Homo sapiens: one gene and its partners. The protein of the gene in region 3 interacts with the protein of the main gene of each other region in a biochemical or structural test. Each region holds a gene or a part of one and is shown on either strand. Other genes may lie near its edges. The genes, in order: BMP2, CTTN and ACTR2.

Evidence for each region.
Region 1: the proteins of ACTR2 (region 3) and BMP2 form a complex in vitro, tested with the Homo sapiens proteins (one study listed by BioGRID).
Region 2: the proteins of ACTR2 (region 3) and CTTN form a complex in vitro, tested with the Homo sapiens proteins (one study listed by BioGRID).

What each region holds. Positions count from the first base shown.
Region 1 is NC_000020.11:6,777,270-6,781,545, reverse strand, and holds the end of BMP2 (bone morphogenetic protein 2 preproprotein), read right to left. Parts: intron 3,302-4,276; coding exon 2,457-3,301; 3' UTR 1,300-2,456; downstream 1-1,299. UniProt on the Homo sapiens protein: Growth factor of the TGF-beta superfamily that plays essential roles in many developmental processes, including cardiogenesis, neurogenesis, and osteogenesis. Induces cartilage and bone formation.
Region 2 is NC_000011.10:70,429,516-70,437,730, reverse strand, and holds the end of CTTN (src substrate cortactin), read right to left. Parts: intron 6,541-8,215; coding exon 6,451-6,540; intron 4,631-6,450; coding exon 4,453-4,630; intron 4,085-4,452; coding exon 4,013-4,084; intron 2,706-4,012; coding exon 2,569-2,705; 3' UTR 2,266-2,568; coding exon of another isoform or gene 1,987-2,265; 3' UTR 1,450-1,986; coding exon of another isoform or gene 1,323-1,449; 3' UTR 1,156-1,322; downstream 1-1,155.
Region 3 is NC_000002.12:65,244,052-65,252,266, forward strand, and holds part of ACTR2 (actin-related protein 2), read left to right. Parts: intron 1-2,472; coding exon 2,473-2,688; intron 2,689-6,975; coding exon 6,976-7,048; intron 7,049-8,215. UniProt on the Homo sapiens protein: ATP-binding component of the Arp2/3 complex, a multiprotein complex that mediates actin polymerization upon stimulation by nucleation-promoting factor (NPF).

The DNA of each region.
Region 1 (4,276 bases), on a different chromosome or scaffold from region 3:
GAGCTTCCAAGAGGGTCAGAGTGTCTGATTATAAAATCTCTGAAACTAAACTGAAAATGCCAGCATCTATACATATGTACTACATATTACATACATCTTTAGATGTATATTTATGTATTTTATGTTTTATATATTAAATACGCATATGCAAGATAACACATTTTAGTCGACACCATTGAAAACAGTTTTAACCAAGAATATTAGAACCAATGAAGCAGAGAAATCAAAAGGGTGGATGGAACTGCCAAAGGATGAAATTCTTGTGCTATACTCTCATGCTCTCATCTAGAGAATGTGAATATGAGAAAACATGGGTCATTCGTTTTAACATGTTAAGACCGTGCAGTCTGTCCTTCATGTCCATGGCAATAGAGGGTGAAGAACAGCTGGAGAACAAACAAGACCCCAATCCCCTCAGTTGGGTATGATCTAATGGTTCTCACCTAATCAAGAACAATAGAACTAGAGATAAAAAGGAGCTGCAAGATTTTAAAAGTTAACCAGCATTAGTAAAAGATAACTGTCATGCACATTTAAAGATAAGGTTTACATAACCTCATAACCTCCGAACTGTAACTAAGCTCATAGTCATCAAAAGTTAATTCCTAGGAAGAATTTGATTATAACAGTCTGTTCCATTATAAACACACTGTTTTTTAGCCAATTCCAAGGAGATTAGAGGTAGGTTTCACCAATCATGCATGGCAGGATCAGAGGGGATGCAAAGTCCTGGAAACTGACCTAAAATACTGCCAGTAAAATAGTGGGTAGTTGTGGGTGCCCTGCTCTTATGAACATCTGCTGAACCCTTCCTTGGTCTGATTCTAACCCAGGGTACAGAAGCCCTGACACTCTGGTAAGTGTTCAATCTGAGCAGCCTAATTTGACTTCATTCTGTTTGGGCGTCAGTCCAACTGGCAGATGTTCTTATAGAAGCTGATCTCCGACACTTTCCCTTTCTAATTTTCTGGCACCGTTGCCTCTGTTGCATGGGCTATTATCTCTGAAACTTTATCTCGGGTTATCCAGGTTTTGCTTGTTTTGTAGGCTTTAGTTTTCCCTTAAATCTTTCTGCCCCAAAGAAGTTCATTTGAAAAATACTAAATCACTGGTAACACCTTTAGTGCAAATATGACTTATCAAATAACTTGCCTGCAATTTTCCAGCCATTCATTACCTTTCCCCCACCCCCTCTAAAATATATAACTTCAGAAACAAAAATGCAAACACAAGGTCATCATTGTAAGCGCTATACAAATGCACCATTTTCTCTTACAGGTTGGACTTTATAGAATGAAATGCCAGAGATTTGATATTTATTATCTGAAATAGGTTTAACATTTGGAGAAATGTGTTCAAACACACAACCTTGGAAAGAAAAGCAAGCTGATAGGTCAGAGAACAGAGGGTGGGCAGAAAACACGATGTGCATAATTTTGCTGCGTGTTGGGCAAAAAGTTAGAAAACTGGGTTCTTTGGAGAATAAAGAGCTCTCAGATGAGGTAAAGGTAAAACACAAATAAATTTCCAACCCTTGATGAGGGCCACGAGATATCAATTTTAAATATATATGACCACAATATCAATAATGAAGAAATCTTACGTTTTATTGAATACTTTGGCCAGATCAGCCCCTTTGAAGGGATCACTAATTTAGGAAAGAAGAACAACAAACCATCATTCACTTTCCTGCAGGTTCATCGTTTTCCTAATTATTTCTATGGATCCTGCTTTATTCTTTCTGTAAATTAAGGGGCAGGAGGAGAGTTTCTATAATAGATCAGCAATGTCTGGTTCTTATCCAAATATTCCACCTAATAAGGATGTAAATTCTCATGGATTGGACAATCACTCTGCAACATTCCTGAGAATTGAATAATATAATAATCTTGAAAGTCAGCAGAGTGGATTATCCACTTTTTTTTTCTGGACTTGAACTTGTGAACTCAACAGTAGCACTGCAAAAAAGCAAACGTGCTAAGCACTTTGCCAGAGTAACCTTCCATGTAGACTTTTCATCTTAAATACACACAACTGAAAACAACTACAATTTTTGGAAAATTATGTACAAACCCGATACTTCTTTTGATTACATATAAATACAAATTAGCTATTTTTTTCCTAAAAAGTGGTTATAATAGTAAATAAATACAAAATAAATCTGACCATTATACTTCATGTGCTGGGGTTGAACCCATATAAAATGTACAACTAAATACATTTTAAATCTTTAAGGAATAATTCTCTGATTAAAATATTTGTTTTCCCAACTTCTTTTCGTAGATATAAATATATTTTCAAAATAGCTGTTTTTTTTTCCATTCCATTCCATAAATAAAGTCTTCATTGGGAAATATTAAAGTGTCAACTGGGGTGGGGTTTTTTTGTTTGTTTGTTTTTTTCTTTTTTCTAAAATATATATATATATATATATTTATGTATTTAATTTTGCTGTACTAGCGACACCCACAACCCTCCACAACCATGTCCTGATAGTTCTTTAATACAACCTTTTCATTCTCGTCAAGGTACAGCATCGAGATAGCACTGAGTTCTGTCGGGACACAGCATGCCTTAGGAATCTTAGAGTTAACAGAGTTGACCAACGTCTGAACAATGGCATGATTAGTGGAGTTCAGATGATCAGCCAGAGGAAAAGGGCATTCTCCGTGGCAGTAAAAGGCGTGATACCCCGGGGGAGCCACAATCCAGTCATTCCACCCCACGTCACTGAAGTCCACGTACAAAGGGTGTCTCTTACAGCTGGACTTAAGGCGTTTCCGCTGTTTGTGTTTGGCTTGACGTTTTTCTCTTTTGTGGAGAGGATGCCCTTTTCCATCATGGCCAAAAGTTACTAGCAATGGCCTTATCTGTGACCAGCTGTGTTCATCTTGGTGCAAAGACCTGCTTATCCTAACATGTCTCTTGGAGACACCTTGTTTCTCCTCCAAGTGGGCCACTTCCACCACGAATCCATGGTTGGCGTGTCCCTGTGCAGTCCACCGCATCACAGCGGGGGTGACATCAAAACTTTCCCACCTGCTTGCATTCTGATTCACCAACCTGGTGTCCAAAAGTCTGGTCACGGGGAATTTCGAGTTGGCTGTTGCAGGTTTTATGATTTCATAAATATTAATTCGGTGATGGAAACTGCTATTGTTTCCTAAAGCATCTTGCATCTGTTCTCGGAAAACCTGAAGCTCTGCTGAGGTGATAAACTCCTCCGTGGGGATAGAACTTAAATTAAAGAAGAATCTCCGGGTTGTTTTCCCACTCGTTTCTGGTAGTTCTTCCAAAGATTCTAATTTGATAGAGAAAAACAGGGAAGAAAAAAGAAAAGTCTGAATTTCAGTAAGCCAAGTAATGACGTTTGATTATCTATGAGAATTTTTAAACCTCATCGTGGGATTTGATGTAACCCATGTAAAAGTAGGTAACCAGAAAATAAAAATTTCCTCTTTAAATAAACATGGAGCCTCCCTTCTCTCTGTTCTGTAAGTTCATGTCATCATGCATTGCATACCAGGAAACAACCTTTCATAATTCTTTGTTGTGTTTTTGATCTAATACATGAATACTGCTTCCAGGTGGCTATAATAATGGGGGAAATGGTGAAGCATTTCTTTGGAATTCCAGACTTTAGGGTAAAAAAAAAAAAAAGTCAGCACTATAGTTAGTAGAGGTCTAATGAGTGAGGATTTGAGGAAATTATTGCATTTCTTTTTTAAAAAAGGCTTTAATGCCAATCCCTTAAGCAGTATTCTAAAACATTACTCTGCAATTTAGATGATTTACAAATCTCGATATACAGATTTCAGCTTCCTAATTAAAGACTCTGAAACTCAACATCAACGATGACATTTTGCAAAGCACACCCTACTATTTTACTCAAAAGTCCAGAGACAAAGGCATTTACAGGGATCTACTTCTTTGGAAACGTATGGGTGGTACTAGGACACTGTAGTAATTAAGGCCAAACAATTTCAAGAGAAATAGCTTTCCCAACTGTTGTCTGTTCTCTCACCTCTTTATGACCTCAAATATCAAAATCTCATTTTAGATGCTTTTGGAAGAAAAATAAATGACCTGTCTTCTGTTTGCAATGCCTTTATAGTTTTGAAAGATAAACCATGTTAAAAAACCATGTACCTACCCAGTAATAGTGTGCAGGATGGACACAAAACCAAAAAAATAATAAAAATTTACAAAAATATGATTATGATCTCCATGACAAAAGGAACAGTCTCATCCTATTACAGAATAATCCTTCTATATC
Region 2 (8,215 bases), on a different chromosome or scaffold from region 3:
TGCACAGGTTGCAGGAGCGGAGATCACGCCACTGTACTCCAGCCTGGGCGAAAGAGCAAGACCCTTTCTCAAGAAACAGAAACAAAAAACCCCAACCACATCTAAAAAGAAAGCGGCTAAGATTCAGGTGGTTGGCTCCAGGCACTCAAGCTGCCAGGCCACGCTTGGCCACCAATAGAACAGAAACACAGACCCACTCAAGATGTGTCCCGCTCCTGTTGAGCCCCTGCCATGCTCATCCGCAGGCGGCACAGGCACACACCGACTGGGCAGACAGTGGGCCAGCGGGGGCCCTTTCTGCATGGCCCCCTCCCTTCGTCACACCCTGTCCTCCAGCCCCCTGACCCCGTCTGCCCACCCTGGCTGGGACTTTCCCCTGGTTCACAAGCCTTCATGCCTCATTTCTTCAGGACTCAGCTCCCTGCAGGTGGCTGCAATCTCACCCAGCAGACAGGCCCTGTGTGGGACGGGGCTCGCCGTTAGGGCTGCAACCCTGTGATGCAGAACCCACAGCAGCCCGGTTGTGGCAGGAGGGCGGGGGCACTCTCACGTTAGGCTCCTGTGGGCAGAGCTGGCAGAGGCACTGTTTCCTAAGCCAGAGGCAGGTGTGGGACAGCCCAAGGGAGGAGGCAGTGCTCCGTCACCACCCAGGTTGGAAGGGGTAGCAGGCATGTCGTGTAGCCGAAAGCTCCCTGGGAGCACCTGATGGGCAGAAGTGTGAGCCGGAACCCAGCTCCCCAGCACCCCCGGCTCCCGAGGGCACACCTGCTCCCTCAGTGCCACTGTTCCCCTTAGCCTTTAACTTCTGGTGCCCCTGAGCAAAACGAGACTGGGAGCAAAATCCCCCTCAGGATTTGAGAACTGTAATTCAGAAATGACTTTTAAGCACAGAGTGTTTTATTTTGCTTGGAACCTTTGTGCAAAAAACTGAATCATCTGCCAGAGTAAACACATTTCAGTTCATAAGCAGCACCTTTGAATGAACACTGAAAAGGGAACGTACGGTTCGGTCTAAAGCCAGAACAGAACGCGTGAGACGCACTGGACGGCAGGAGAGCCTCCGCCAGCCCAGGTCCGGGGCGCAGGACACCGAGAGTGTCGACGCAGCTTCCACTGCAGAACGGAGTGACCACAGACCAAAGCAAATCACGCAAGTGGATCAAAAAATGTTTATTCTGAATTCTTTAATTTAAAAAAATCATACCTATGAGGTGTGCTACAGGAATTCAGATACAATAAGTTGCATATAAAACCCGACCTCATTGCTCATTGTGGTAAAGCAAGGATGATGAGAAAATGCACCTCAGGAGCAAAAACACGCTTCACGGGCACTCCGGGACCCAAGTCCCGAGACATTTCCACGTGACCTTCTGGAAAGACACACCGCCCACCTGACTGCACGACGGGACTGGTCCAGCCTCCCGGCTCCTCAGGAAGGAGATGAGTTTCCTACAAAGTGAGTGGCCACAAATGCCAGGACAGCGGTGTCCTGGAGCTGTGGGGGGACCTTGGGGAAGAACACACACTCATCTGCACTTCACACTTCTAGCCTTCAACTGATCAAACTACTGAAATTGAACATGATATTTTGGCAAAAATACTACACCCCCATTGACAGGAGGAGGGTTCCTGGCGGCTCACAGCAGAGCAGGCACTGCCTTCCTTCCCAAGGCCGAGAGGCCATGCTGTGACATGGCACACACACCGCCCCAGGCTGCCCGGTGGCCCAGGGACCATATGGGTGACAGTTAAGACATCAGCCTTTGTGAAAAGCCAAGCCCGACGCAGACCTCAACTGCACTGTGCGTCCCAATCCAGAGACCCGCGGGGCAGGGGAGGATTTCAAGGACTCAGTGACACTGCCCGGCGGGGACAGGAGAGGCTCCCAGCAGCCCTCCCGGTGACCTGGGCATCAGGGGATGGGTAGAGATGAGGACAAGCCGGAGTGGGCACAGGAAAAAAACCAGGGTCTCTGCTAGAAGTCACCTGATCCTGCGGGCTGTCACGGTATGACATAGGCAGATTTCCCATCTGACATGGCAGCTCCTGTGCTCTGGGTGACTTAGCTCCGGGTTAACTTCCATCAGGCCCAGTCCTCTCCTCCCCAGCAGTGAGACTCTAGAGGAAGCCCCTCGTCTGGGACAGTCCTTCCTGCCTACCCGCCACAGGGCCGACCTGAGGCCTCGTGCTTGTCCTGGGAGGTCCCGACTGCACTTGATGGGCACGAGGGCAACACGAACACAAGAGAATGCGAGCTCCCTGAAGCTGCCGCGTGACAGTCAATTTGGCAAAAAAGAAAAAAAAAACCATCAATGCATAAAACCAATTACCAAAGTCCTCCTAAGGAATGTGATTACAATATATTAGCAAATTCTGTGGCATAAACATTTTCAAAAGCATCAGCAAAAGTATTAAATATAAAAGCAATGTGTATATTCCCCTCCCCACCTTCAAAAAAAAAAAAAAAAAAAAAAAAACAGAAAAAACCCAAAACCACCCAAGAACCAAAGAAGGCCTGATCTGTAGTGTGAGGATCCAGGGCGCAGCTCCGGGGGGGGGCTGGGGGCCCTACTGCCGCAGCTCCACATAGTTGGCTGGGAAGAGCCCGTACCGGCCCTTGCACACCCCGCGCCACCAGCCGTCGTCAATCATCTCGATGTTGGTGATGATGTCATCAGGGTCAAATGAGATCTCATCATCGCCCGCTGGGGAAGAGAACACAGAGAAAGATGCTGAAGTGCAAGCGTTTCCTGGTCTGCCAGAAAAAAAGCACAACCCAGAGCAAGCTCCCAGGCAGCCTGCTCAGAGATGCCCCCTGCAGAGATGCGGACCACCGCGGAGGCTCCTGCTGCCTCTCCCATGCCACCAAGGCCAGGATTTGTGAACATGAACCGAGAGAGTACAAAGAGGCACAGAGCCCTTCACACAAGCACCAACCCCACCCGGACCCCTTCCTCAGGAGCAGGTTTCCACCACATAACTCCAGCCCCGCCTGCCCTCCCTTCCCCTCTCTCTGGCAGACGTGTCTGTGGAGGGGGTGGGGAGATGGGCTGCGGAGGCCGCAGTGGAAGGACAGCCAGGGGACACCCGGAGAGAAGCCCGAGGTGATGGCTGAAATGGGAATGGAGGGCAAAAGCCACGGTGATGAGAATCCACGCACAGGTGCCGAGATGCCACAGACACACCCACATGCGTGTACGCAAATGCACGTGTGCAAAAGGCACTGAACGGGGACGGCCAGCGCTCACTTATGGTAGAATGCCAGCTTCCGCGCTGATGGAAAGTTGCAAACGGGAAGCACTCAAGAGGCAGAGGCCGGGGGTTCTGAGGGGAATCCCACGCCACCCGTAAGATGCTTGTCAACTGCAGAGGGGTGGTGGTGACTTTGTGGACCAGGTGGTGGCTGAGACAGAGGGACAAGTGGATGCTATGCGGCCCAGCAGAGAGCCCCACCGCATGGTCTCCAAGACCTCACCGCCACCAGAGCACAGCTCAGCCTGGCCCTGAGGGAACACGGGGCGGGCGGCTGAGGCCAGCCCAGGAGCTGAGGCTGCTCTTAAACTGCCAAGGCCGCAAAGGGAACTCAGGGGAACGTGCAGGCCACACGGGAGCTGGCGGCCGGGGCAGGACAGGCAGGAATGGGGTCTCGAACATCAAGGCATCTGTGCGGCCCCCTCACCTGGAGGGTGGGGTGTCCCTGTGGGACAGCATCTTTGATCTTGGGAAACACGCTGGAGTCTTTGGGGGTGGCAGCACCCCTGCAGCTCTCCAAGGGTTCAGAGAATACTAAAGATAACAGGGGGTGTGTGCGTGTGTGTGCAGAGATGGAATCCGGGTAGGGAACATGGGAGTTCTTGGCACTATACCTGCAACTTTTCTATATCTCTGAAATTATCTCAACATAAATTACTTCTAAAACTAACAACGCTAGAGAAGTGAATTCTCAGAAAACAAGCAGAGGCAGGCGCAGCTGCCTGGGTCTCCCCTCCAAGTGCTTTTGCAGGCCGCTCACCAGCCTGGTAGTCGTACAGGGCGACGGCTGTGATCCCCAGATCGTTCTCGTACTCATCGTAGGTGCTGTCCTCTAAAAGAAAGCCATGACAGAGCTGAACAATACAAAGTCCCACACAGGTTCCCAGCCTTCTCAAGTTTTAGACGACACTTCCTAAGATTTTGTCTCAAGGACACAGGGCGGCAGCTGAAACCCTCCCTTCCTCTGCCCCTGCCCACCCGTCCCCAGCACAATGGGGATCTTCCTGGGACCCAGCACAGGAGCCGATGCCCCAAATGTGCCTAGAGCACTTCCCTCCAGGGACAAGAAGACCCTATAGCAAGCAAGCAAAGGCGTGTCAGTGGGAAACCCACGCTCCTCGCAACGACGCCACAGGTCGAGCAGGATGTCCCGGGAGCTCCCTGCCCTGGGCAGGGCGCTGCAGCGTGGGGCCCCAGTACCTGCGGGATAGTGGCCCGGGGCCTCTGCGCTTTCATAGACAGCCTCTGTGGCATAGGCCAGGCCCTGCTGGCTGCTGGCCTCTCGGTAGTCAGCGGCCTCCATGCTGTACACGGGCTCCGGCTCCGTCCCACTCACAGGGCCTCTGTAGCTCAGCTCTGCCTTGAAGGAAGCCGCATCCTGGGGAAGGGTCACACGCACATGGCACGGGGCCCATGCTGGCTTCTAGAGAGCAGTAGCTGTACTGCCACAGCCAGCAGAAACCCACGGGCCATCTAATTCTCAGTCCCAGCCAGGACTGAGAAAACAGACGCGGTATAGGAAGGCCAGGCCTGCCGGTGTGTTCACCATGGTGGTGAGTGCCCACATGCCATTTCCTTCCCGATGATGACCCGGTCCTCACCACCGACACTCCAGTCCTGCAATAACCACGCCCACACAGCAGGTTAGGAGACACGCCCCTGCCCACACTGTTGCCTGGGGGTAGAGCCTGTCTTTGTTGGGTTAATTTGGCTGATTTCTTTTTTTAGGCCTCATCTCCAAGGCCACACAAGGCACCCTTGGGCCGAGCGGCCACCCTCCTGCCTGTGCTGCTCGACCCTGGCCCTGCCTGACAGCGGCTTCACCACGTGGCTCCAGAGCAGCTGAGCCTACAGACAGGGCATCGCCAAAGAATCACATTCAACTACAAAGGTGCGCAGTGGAACACCTCTCTATCTATAACCACTGCCGCTTCGGAGCCCCAGCGAAAATTCTGAACTGCTTATCACCGACAGTGGCTTTAATCAATGTTTCTGACCAGGGTCCACCTGATGTCACCGGCAGTGACTGAAAGAAAGCAATGCCGACAGCTCAGAACCGCGCACCCAGGAGATCTGGGAAGAGCCAGTGGTGGAGAGCTGCTAGCCAGGGAGAGTAATCGGGCAGGGAGAGCGACTCCACCCTCAGCACAGGCACCAGGAACCACACAAGGGCTGAACTGCACGGGAGGGGCAGGGTCGGAGCTTCCTTGAGGCAGATGGCGCTGGCTGCCAAGGGGAGGGACTAGAGGGGGAGGCCGGTTCCTGACAAGCTGCAAGGCCTCACTTACCACATCCCCCCAGGGCCCGGCAGGGTAAAGGCAGCAGGCAGCAGCGTAGCCAAGGAGGGACAGTCGGGTGGTGACAAGGCCACGGCCATCGAGGCCCAGATCCCAGACCCGGCCTGTCTCCAGGGCTCTCTCTGGGCTCCTGAACTACCATGGTCTGGAGTGTGACCCCTGTAACTGACTGGCTCCTGGGCGAGCAGAGATGAATGCATAGACCAGGATGATGGCCATGGGATGGAGAAAGGGCAAGGGCTGGGGACAGGAGAGGTGGTTACAGGTAGAGGGTGTGGTTAGCGCAGAGGTGCTGGCGGGGAGCAGGAGACCCAAAGTCAGGGATGGGCGGGGCATCGGCAGGCGGCTCCGTAACTCAGGGATGGGGACGGAACACTGGGGGACCCATGAGAGGGGGTCAGCAGCACAGGGAGGGGCCGGACAGCATGTCTGCAGCCACACTCATGAGGGGCTGCAAGGCTGGAGAGCTGAATGGGGCAGGCATAGAAGGCAGATTGTGCGGGAGGCAGGGGCTCAGTGATGAAGGAGGGCAGCACTGCCATTAGGGAGTGAGGCGGCGTCCTGCACAGCAGAGAGCAAGTGGGGTGAAGACACCCCCATCTGATTATCTGATAGCAGGTGACTACAGCAGGGACTGCAGTGACAGTGGCCAGACTACAACAGGCTGCAGAGGGGTGAAAGGATGGCATGTGGGCCTGCACAGCTATCCCCTGACAGCACTGAGGCATGTCACCCACCCCCCAGGCGCTCCTGGCCCACCCCTCTCCGGGCGTGGAATGCAGCGATGCCCTCTACACCCACGCCACACTGCCTGCCTGCAAGGGCTTCCTCCACTCCACAAACAGGACCTGGGCTCTGGCAGTAAGTCACTCACGCTCATTCAAACACCAAAGACACCAACCTCATAGACGGGGCTCGAGGGCAGCCTCTCCTCGGTTGGCTGAGGTGCGGGCGACACAGGGGGCGTTTGCGTTTTGGCTCTGGCTTGCTCCTGTGATTGAAAACAAACAGCAATCAGAATGCTGCCATGACACTCTGCACTGTCACGCCTGCCGTGTTTCAGAAGATCGTGTGCAAGCTCTAGGCATGCTCTGGGGAAAGGAGTGGAAAACACCCACACCAAGGCTGAGCTGGAGCACCAAGCCTCAGATCCCACCAGCACCCCAGCAGGATCCGAGGGGCAGGGGAGCTGGAGCACCAAGTCTCAGATCCCACCAGCACCCAGGCAGGATCCGAGGGGCAGGGGAGCTGGAGCACCAAGCCTCAGATCCCACCAGCACCTAGGCAGGATTCGAGGGGCAGGTGTGCTCTGAGGCCGAGATCACACAGCCAGTGACGCGACAGTGCCGGGACTGGGCCACAGCTCATTCTCGCCCACACACGATTAGATAGTTTAGGCACAGATTTGGGAGTCTGAGTTGATGCTGCAATGGGTTGAGACTTTGGGGACCTTAAAATGGGCTGAGTATGTTTGCACATGGGATGGACATGAAGCTTTAGGGGCCAAAGGATGAACTGGGGTAGGATAATAGCCCCTCAAAGCTGCTGACATCGCAGTCCCCAGACCCCATGGGGAGGGACTGTGTATGTGATGAAACTAAGGGTTCTGTGATGGGGAGAACTCTGGACTGCCTGGGTGGACCCAATGTAATCACAAGGTCCTGAGAGGAGGGAGGCAGGAGTGTGAGGGACAGAGGAGGGGCGGTGACAACAAAAGCAGAGGCTGGAGATGGGAAGACAGGGCCGAGGGGCCACCAGGAGGAACACAGCCCTGCTGACATCTTTGAGGACCTCTGACCTCCAGAGCTATAAGACACTAGCTGTGTGCTGTGTGTGGTGGTGACTACGGCAGCAACAGGAAACTCACTGACAGCCTGTGGGCTCCAGTGCCAGACGCTGAGTCTGAGGGTGAGGTGGCAGGCACAGGCACACTGGCCAGGGAGCTGCCCAGGCAGGATCTGAACCCCAGGTGTCCACTCCAAACCCCTTCCCTCCTCTCCCTCTGCAGGCGGCCTTGCTCTAACGGGAACAATGGTAGTGCTGTCTTGTCTTTTTGAAGAGAAAACCACCCCTGGTCTTGAGACCCTAGCACGGTTCCTGGCATCTATGGCCTTGCTTGACCCCAACAGGACAGTTGTAAATTCCCACGTCACCTGATGCCATCCACAGGTTAAACACCCAAAGTAGCACGTCCTGTGTGGCCCTGCAGGGGCAGGGCCTGGGGTGGATAGGAGAAGCCCAGGCTTCCAGACAGGCTGGGCCTGCCCCACACTGCAGATGCCCCAGCTGCAGAACCACACCTGGTAACTTCACACACACACATCTGTAGGCCTCAGGCTCTATTCACAACCCCCCTGATCCAGCTGAGCACAAGGAAAGTCCTTGTCAGTGGCAAGCCACCCAGGCTAGACCCAAAGCACCCAGACACAGGCTCGTGCTCCGCCCCTGCCAGGGGTGCACTTCTGGCATCTTTCTCTGGGAGCGCTTCTCCACAGCCCAGGGGCTTGGGTGAGCGGGGCTGGGCTGGCCAAGCAGAAGCAGGCCCCGAGAGCAGGCTGCCTCTGCACAGAGTCCCCTCCAAACCCCAAACTTCCACCTGGGAAAGGAGGGGCTTCCAGAGGGGGAGGGGTGAGAAGAGACTCAGGCTGACATTTGGACAGGAGCCC
Region 3 (8,215 bases):
GTCCTGTTTGTTCTGAGGAAGGTAAGGATACTCAATTCCAAACATTTCTTTCAGTTAATCCTTTATAGTATGTGTGGTCCTAGAAGTAGATACATGAGGCATTTATTTAGAGTTGGCATTGGGTCATGTAAATGTAAGCCCCTATTTGTACATTAAATAAAAAGTAAATTTCTGTTGAAATCAGATCAGACTTATTTCAAATTGGTTGAAATAATACTGATTATATTATCTAATTATCTAATCTGTTATCTTGTACAACACACAAAAAAGACGTAAAGTTAGTAACAAAAATGGTATATATAATTACAGGTATAGATTTCCCCCCTAACATTTTATTAAGCAGTATTAAGAAAATGTAGCAATATTGAAATGATTTTACAATGAAACTTGTATATCCATCACCTGGATTCTGACATTAATATATATCATACTGATTTATTACATATCTGTTCATCTGTTCATTCATCAGTGCATCTTGTTTTTTGATGGATTTCAAAGTAAGTTGCAGATACCAGTATACTTCTCCCTGAATACTTCAACATGTGCATGTTATTAACTAGAATTCACAAATACAGATTTTTAGTTTTGCATATTCCTCATAGAAGAATCTAAACGGTTGGGTGTGGTGATTCATGCCTATAATCCTAGCACTTTGGGAGGCTGAGGTGGGCGGATCCCTTGAGCCCAGGAGTTCAAGACCAGCCTGGGCAACATGGTGAAACCCTGTCTCTACTAAAAATACAAGAATTAGCTGGGCATGTAGCCTGTAGTCCCAGCTACTTGGGAGGCTAAGGTGGGAGGATCACCTGAGCCTGGGGAGGTTGAGGCTGTGGTAAGCAATAATGGCACCACTGCACTCCAGCTTGGGTGACAGAGTGAGACCCCATCTCAAAAAAAAAAAAAAAAAAGAGTGTAAACATTTAATATTTCAGATATTTGAGTAATAAGTTAGTAAGTTATGGTAAATGAACTTCATAAGAAATTGCAACAAATTTTTACTGAGCATTTCTAGCATCTGTTTTTAACTTTGTTATACTTTTTGATGCTTTTAGTGGATTTTCCAGAGATCTGTTTGGTTTTTTGTTAGAGTCCTCACCTTGGTTTCATCTCTGATATTTTCTTTTTCTTTTTTTTTTAATTTAAAACTCATATATTTTTAAGCCTTTGTTTTAAAACATCTCATGTTGGCCAGGTGTGGTGGCTCATGCCTGTAATCCCAACACTTTGGGAGGCCGAGATGGGTGAATTACTTGAGGTCAGGAGTTTGAGACCAGCTTGGCCAACATGGTGAAACCCCATCTCTACTAAAAATACAAAAATTAGCCAGGCGTGGTGGCAGGTGCCTGTAATCCCAGCTACTCAGGAGGCTGAGGCAGGAGAATCGCTTGAACCTGGGAGGCAGAGGTTGTAGTGAGCTGAGATCATGCCACTGCGCTCTAGCCTGGGCAGTAGAGCGAGACTCAGTCTCAAAAAAATAATCTCGTGTTAATTTTGCTGCTGCTTTTTTTTGTCTCTCCATAATTAAAACTTAACGTATTGTAGCAAATATCTACTTCTGATACTAGTTTTTTTAATTGAATTTATCAACATATGTAGAAATTAGTATTATTTAACCTCTTGACTAGCTGTTCTCTAAAAATAAGTCTAAATGCTAGGACATCCTTACTTATTATATATAGAAAATGTGACTTTCAAATGTGGGTCATCTTAAGTATGCTCTCATTGGAGACAAGACTTGTGAGTATTATGCTTCATGTGTGATGGTGTAGTTTTCCAGTATACTTTAAGATTGAAAATGTTGCTCAGGAGACAATTTTAAAGGATGGGTTATTTGCCTATATCTTAATTTTTTATAACTCTACAAATTCTCATTCACCTTGGTGAGGCATATGTAGAAACAGTTTAAATTCTTATTCAGGCATATGTAGATAGAAGTTTGTGCTATTTATTAGTTGGTGTATGTATGCATTATTATAGAGTAATAAAGAATCATTTTATTTTTTGCTTCTTTCATTATGCTTTATAGTACTTACATTTATCATTTTGATATTTAGTGCAAAGAAATGTGCTGCATGCATTGAGCATTTTTCTACAAGTTTTTTTCCCCCTGATGTGCTATTTCACATATCACAGGCCTTATTTTTTGAACAATTGAGCAAAAGAAACAGATGAAACCTCATACAAAACCCTCCAAAATATGAAAATGTGGGGTTTATTTGTGCTAATGCTCTTCTTTTGGAAACATTTGTGTTAAAGGTAAGGTCAATTTATTGATTTAAACCACATTGTATGTAAAAATGTATTATCCATGATTAAACTTTCTAAGACATTGTTCTTGATAGAAAAGATTTTCTAACTTGTGGAATAAAAAGATTTATTTTGCAAGTGTCAGAAATATTAAAATTAATTATTCCCAAGTTTTCTTAAATATTATGCAAAACTTTGATCTACAGCTTTGACATAATTTTCTAGGATCTTATGGTTGGTGATGAGGCAAGTGAATTACGATCAATGTTAGAAGTTAACTACCCTATGGAAAATGGCATAGTACGAAATTGGGATGACATGAAACACCTGTGGGACTACACATTTGGACCAGAGAAACTTAATATAGATACCAGAAATTGTAAAATCTTACTCACAGAACCTCCTATGAACCCAACCAAAAACAGAGAGAAGATTGTAGAGGTGAGTTTTTATGCAGGATATGCATATGTGTATTTCTGTGATATTATGTTAAATCAAAAATTTTCTTACTGTTGCTATGGATAAAGAGAATAAAAATAATTGTTTTCCTTCAGATCTTATTAAGTATCTACTATATGCTAGTCATTATTCTAAGTAGGAAAGTAGGATAGATCAGTAAACAAAAAATCCTACTGCCATGGAGTGTATATATTCTAACAGGGAAAAACAGACCAAAAAAATTAAGTTTTTAATTTAGTGAGTTAATTAAGTTAATTAAGTTTTTATGGAGGAGCCAGCAGAAGGAGACTGAAAAGGCTAATACAATAAGCAGTTACAGAGTTAATTAAATGGTTTGTTAGAAGGTGAGTGATCCAGTTGACCCATGAGCAATGCAGGGGTTAGGGGCACCAACCCTCCCTACTCACGTGCAAACTTAACTACCACCCAAAATACTTAACTTCTAATAGCCTACTGTTGACCAGAAGCCTTACTGATAACATAATATGTATTATATACTATATTCTTAACAATAAAGTAAGCTAGAGGAAATACTGTTAAGAAAATCATGGCCGGGCGCGGTGGCTCACGCCTGTAATCTCAGCACTTTGGGAGGCGGAGGCGGGCAGATCACAAGGTCAGGAGATCGAGACCATCCTGGCTAACACAGTGAAACTCCGTCTCTACTAAAAATACAAAAAATTAGCCGGGCGTGGTGGCGGGTGCCTGTAGTCCCAGCTACTCAGGAGGCTGAGGCAGGAGAATGACGTGAACCCTTGAGGCAGAGCTTGCAGTGAGTGGAGATCGTGCCACTGCACTCCAGCCTGGGCGACAGAGCGAGACTCCGTCTCAAAAAAAAATAAAAAATCATAAGAGAAAATACATTTACTATACCTTAAGTGGATGTAGATCATCATAAAGATCTTCATCGTCATTGTCTTCACACCGACGAAGAAGAGGAGGGGTTGGTCTTGCTGTCTCGGGTGGCAGAGACAGAAGAGGTGCAAGGGGAGGCAGGAAAGATTTATTGACAAAAATCGTGTATAAGTGGACCTGTGTGGTTCAAACTTGTTGTTATTCATGGATCAGCTGTAGATGCTAAAGGCAAAATAAATCAGGTTAACGGGGAGTGGGAGGTTGTAATTGTACATAGGTTGTGAGAAGGTGATGTTTAAACAGACAGGGTAAGTGAGTTAGCCAGGGTATATAGGAGAATGGTATTCCAGATAAAGGGAGTAGCCAGTGTAAAGGTCTTAAGTTAGGAACAAGCTTGGTATATTAAAGAATAAGCAAGGAAGCCAGTGTGGTTGAGGAGAGAGCAACAGAAGATGAGGTCGAGTAAGTAATATTGGTGCCTTGTAGGCTCTAATTAGGAATTGGGCGGCTGGAAGTGGTGGTTCAGGCCTGTAATCCCAGCACTTCTGGGAGGCCGAGGTGGGCGGATCACGAGGTCAAGAGTTCGAGACCAGCCTGACCAACATAGTGAAACGCCATCTCTACTAAAAATACAAAAATTAACTGGGCATAGTGGTGCGTGCCTGTAATCCCAGCTACTTGGGAGGCTGGGGCAGGAGAATCGCTTGAACCCAGGAGGCAGATGCTGCAGTGAGCCGAGATTACACCACTGCATTCCAGCCTGGGCGACAGGGTGAGACTCAGTCTCAAAAAGAAAAAAAGGGAATTGGGCTTTTACTGTGGGTGAAATATGGGGCTGTTACAGGAAAAGGAGATGCTCAGATTTAGATTTCTCTTGTGTTGTGAGTATCCCACAAGGAGGCAAAGATAGAAGAGTTGGAGACTTTTTCAGTCATTTAAGCAAAAGATAATGATGGTTAGGATTGAAGTAGTAGTAGTAGAGATAGTGAGAAATTACCAGATTATAGGTCTGTTTTGAAGGTAGGGCTATAAATGATACGGTTCAACAAAGAAGAGGGTAGACAGTGGTGAAAAGGCCAAGGACCAGAGAGATAGGAGGAGCCAGCAGAAGGAGATTGAAAACGTTATTGAGGCCGGGCTAGGTGGCTCCCAGCACTTTGGGAGGCCAAGGCGGGTGGATCACTTGAGACTAGGAATTTGAGACCAGCCTGGCCAACATGGCAAAACTCCGTCTCTACTAAAAACACAAAATTAGCTGGGCATAGTGGTGCACGCCTGTAATCCCAGCTACGCAGGAGGCTGAGGCAGGAGAATTGCTTGAACCCAGGAGGTGGAGGTTGCAGTGAGCTGAGATCACCCCACTGCACTCCAACCTGAGCGACAGAGCGAGACTCTGTCTCAAAAAGAAAAAAGAAAAAGAAAAAAAAAGTTAATGAAATAATGAAATAAGCAGTTACAGAGGAAAGAGAGAGCAAGAGAGCTATGATCCTCATAGTTTAAATAAGTAATTTTTCAAGGTTCTTTTATTTTTGTATATATGAAGTAGAAATTTAATAACTTCTGTAGCTTTCCAGTTACTGTTTAATGTACATATTTTGTTTACGAATATGTTTAAATGTTGATGGAAATTTTTGAAAGGGTTTAGAAGAAAATGTTGTTAGTATTTTTAAAGCCTGTATTAAAACTCAGTTTTTGTATTAAGTGTTTTGAAAATCTAAGATCATGGTTTTAAAGAATCCATATGATTTCTTATGGCTTATATTTTAATATTCTTATTTGTTTATGACTACAAATATGTCTATGACTGATAGTGTCCTACCTTAATCTCATTAACATGCTTTCACATTGGTATGTGCATATATATGATCATTCTTCCATTTTCATCCCTGTGGAGGTGGAATAAAGGATGATGGAATAAAATACTATTCAGACTATCTAATTGCTTAATTGATGAGTATGTGTTTCAGAGTTGTAGAATTTAAATTCTGTGTAATTTTCATTGTGGTCAGTTGTAAAATTTCTAAATATTTAGATATTCAGAGTGATAGGCAACCCTACCAGTCAAGGGGTGCTCAGTCAAGATCACCAAAAAAAAAATCATGCAGGATGTTCCCAGCTGACCTGGGCTACAGAGAATGAACATGTGTGTGACCAGTGAGGGCAAAAAGGAAAGAACTCCTCCTTCCAGGGTAGTTCATTTGGAGGTTGTAATTACAGTCTTGATTCAAGTAGGGACTGGGCTCAGCAGCTAAGCCATTTCTGTATCTTCCAGCAATCAGGAATTAACCATTGATTTTTGTCTTTGCCGTGGCATTTTACTGGGTTTTTTATTTTTTCTTTCTTTCTTTCTTTTAATTTTTAAGCTGCTCAGGGTAGACAGAGCTACACTCTTGGCCCAGATTGAGGGAGGGGGTACGAGGCTCTGTAAAGCAATTTCTATATTTTGTCTTCGAATTAAAAGATATTTCCCGGCCGGGTGCGGTGGCTCACGCCTGTAATCCCAGCACTTTGGGAGGCCGAGGCAGGCGGATCATGAGGTCAGGAGATGGAGACCATCCTGGCTAACACGGTGAAACCCTGTCTCTACTAAAAATACTAAAAATTAGCCGGGTGTGGTGGTGTACGCCTGTAGTCCCAGCTACTCGGGAGGCTGAGGCAGGAGAATGGCGTGAACCAGGGAGGTGGAGGTTGCAGTGAGCTGAGATGGCACCACTGCACTCCAGCCTGGGCGACAGAGCAAGACTCCGTCTCAAAAAAAGAAAAAAAAAAGATATTTCCCTGGCTGGATGTGGTGGCTGACACCTGTAATCCCAGCACTTTGGGAGGCCGAGGTGGGTGGATCATGAGGTCAGGAGTTCGAGACTAGCCTGGCCAACATAGTGAAACCCTGTCTGTACTAAAAATACAAAAATTAGCCAGGCATGGTGGTGCATGCCTGTAGTCCCAGCTACTCAGGAGGCTGAGGCAGGAGAATCAGTTGAACCCTGGAGGTGGAGGTTGCAGTGAGCCAAGATTGCGCCACTGCACTCCAGCTTGGGCAACAGAGTGAGACTTCATCTCAAAAAAAAAAAAAAAAAAAAAGAATTTCCCTTAAGGGATATCAATTAAGAAAGTCTTGTTCAATACAGAGAGCTTTCTTTCACACTAATTAGTCATTAACTAATACACTAAGAAATCTTTGCTTTGTCACGCTTATGAAATGCTTGGGGACTTAGAAATCTGTCTTCAGATTTGGAGCTCTGTGGCAGCAGGACTTCAATAAGAAATAAGAGGAGCTGATGAAAATGGAAGACTATTTCAGGTCCATTTGATTCTATTTTGGGCAATTAATTCACTCTGTGACCATGAGGAAAACATTTATTTATTATGTAATTTTCTAAATACCAGTTTTTTTCTTTCTGTCTGCATTTACAGGTAATGTTTGAAACTTACCAGTTTTCCGGTGTATATGTAGCCATCCAGGCAGTTCTGACTTTGTACGCTCAAGGTAGGTTAAGCTTAACTGTTAGAAAAAACACTTCATCAAACATTTATTATGTATGTTTTATGTCAGAGAATTTGGTTTCTCAATAAGTTATAAGCCCCAGAAAACTACATTATTTATATACCACACTTTGAAATATTTTCAGTTTTTAAAATTTGTGAAATAAGATTTTATATACATTTTTATTTGCTAAATATGTATTTAAGGTAAAAAAAAAAGGCTTAAAGACTTATTTTTTAAAAAATAGGATATTCTCTCTTTTAAGCTATTTAAATTTTTTTTGAGACAGATTTTCGCTTTTGTTGCCCAGGCCGGAGTGCAATAGTGCAATCTTGGCTTACCACAACCTCCACCTCCTGGGTTCAAGTGATTTTCCTGCCTCAGCCTCCCAAGTATTTGGGATTACAGGCATGTGCCACCACACCTGGCTAATTTTGTATTTTTAGTAGAGATGGGGTTTCTCCATATTGGTCAGGCTGGTCTCAAACTCCTGACCTCAGGTAGTCCGCCCGCCTCAGCCTCCTGAAGTGCTGGGATTACAGGCATGAGTCACCGTGCCTGGCATAGCTATTTTAATTTTTTATGCATGGAATTTGTCCCCAGAATTGGCTTGAGTTAAAAAAAATACGCAGAGATTCAAAAAGGTAGCATAAAATCATGCCTGTCAAATATATAGTAGATTAAAAAGGAGAAGGTAAACATTTGGGAGTGCATTTCTAACTTTTGAGGTGGGTTTAATGGAGGGGACTACTTATATATTCTCTTGATATTGCCATTAGCAACTGCCTCCCTCTTTATTGGAAATAAAATATTGGCCACGTTGGGAGAGCTCTTTTTTTTTTTTATGGTCTTATAAATTCAACAGGAACTTACTGAGAATGTCTGGGCCTGTCAGATATGTGCCAAGGAGTCTTTTAGGCACTTCAGGGGATAATCCAGTGGGAAAAGAGTGTGGCACTGGAAATGGGTCAAGTGTGTTTGGAGAAAGGCCAGTATGTGTGTGACCTGATGGAAGTGGTAGAAAATAAGGTGAGGTGGGTAGGGAGGGCTCTTTGGGAAATAAAATGTAAATTCTTGCATTAGTCAGTGTTCCTGGGAGTATTTTTGAATTGATGATGGTGTGAATTCCTCCTTTTTTTTTTCTTTTTTGCAATGGAAATCCTCTTCTTT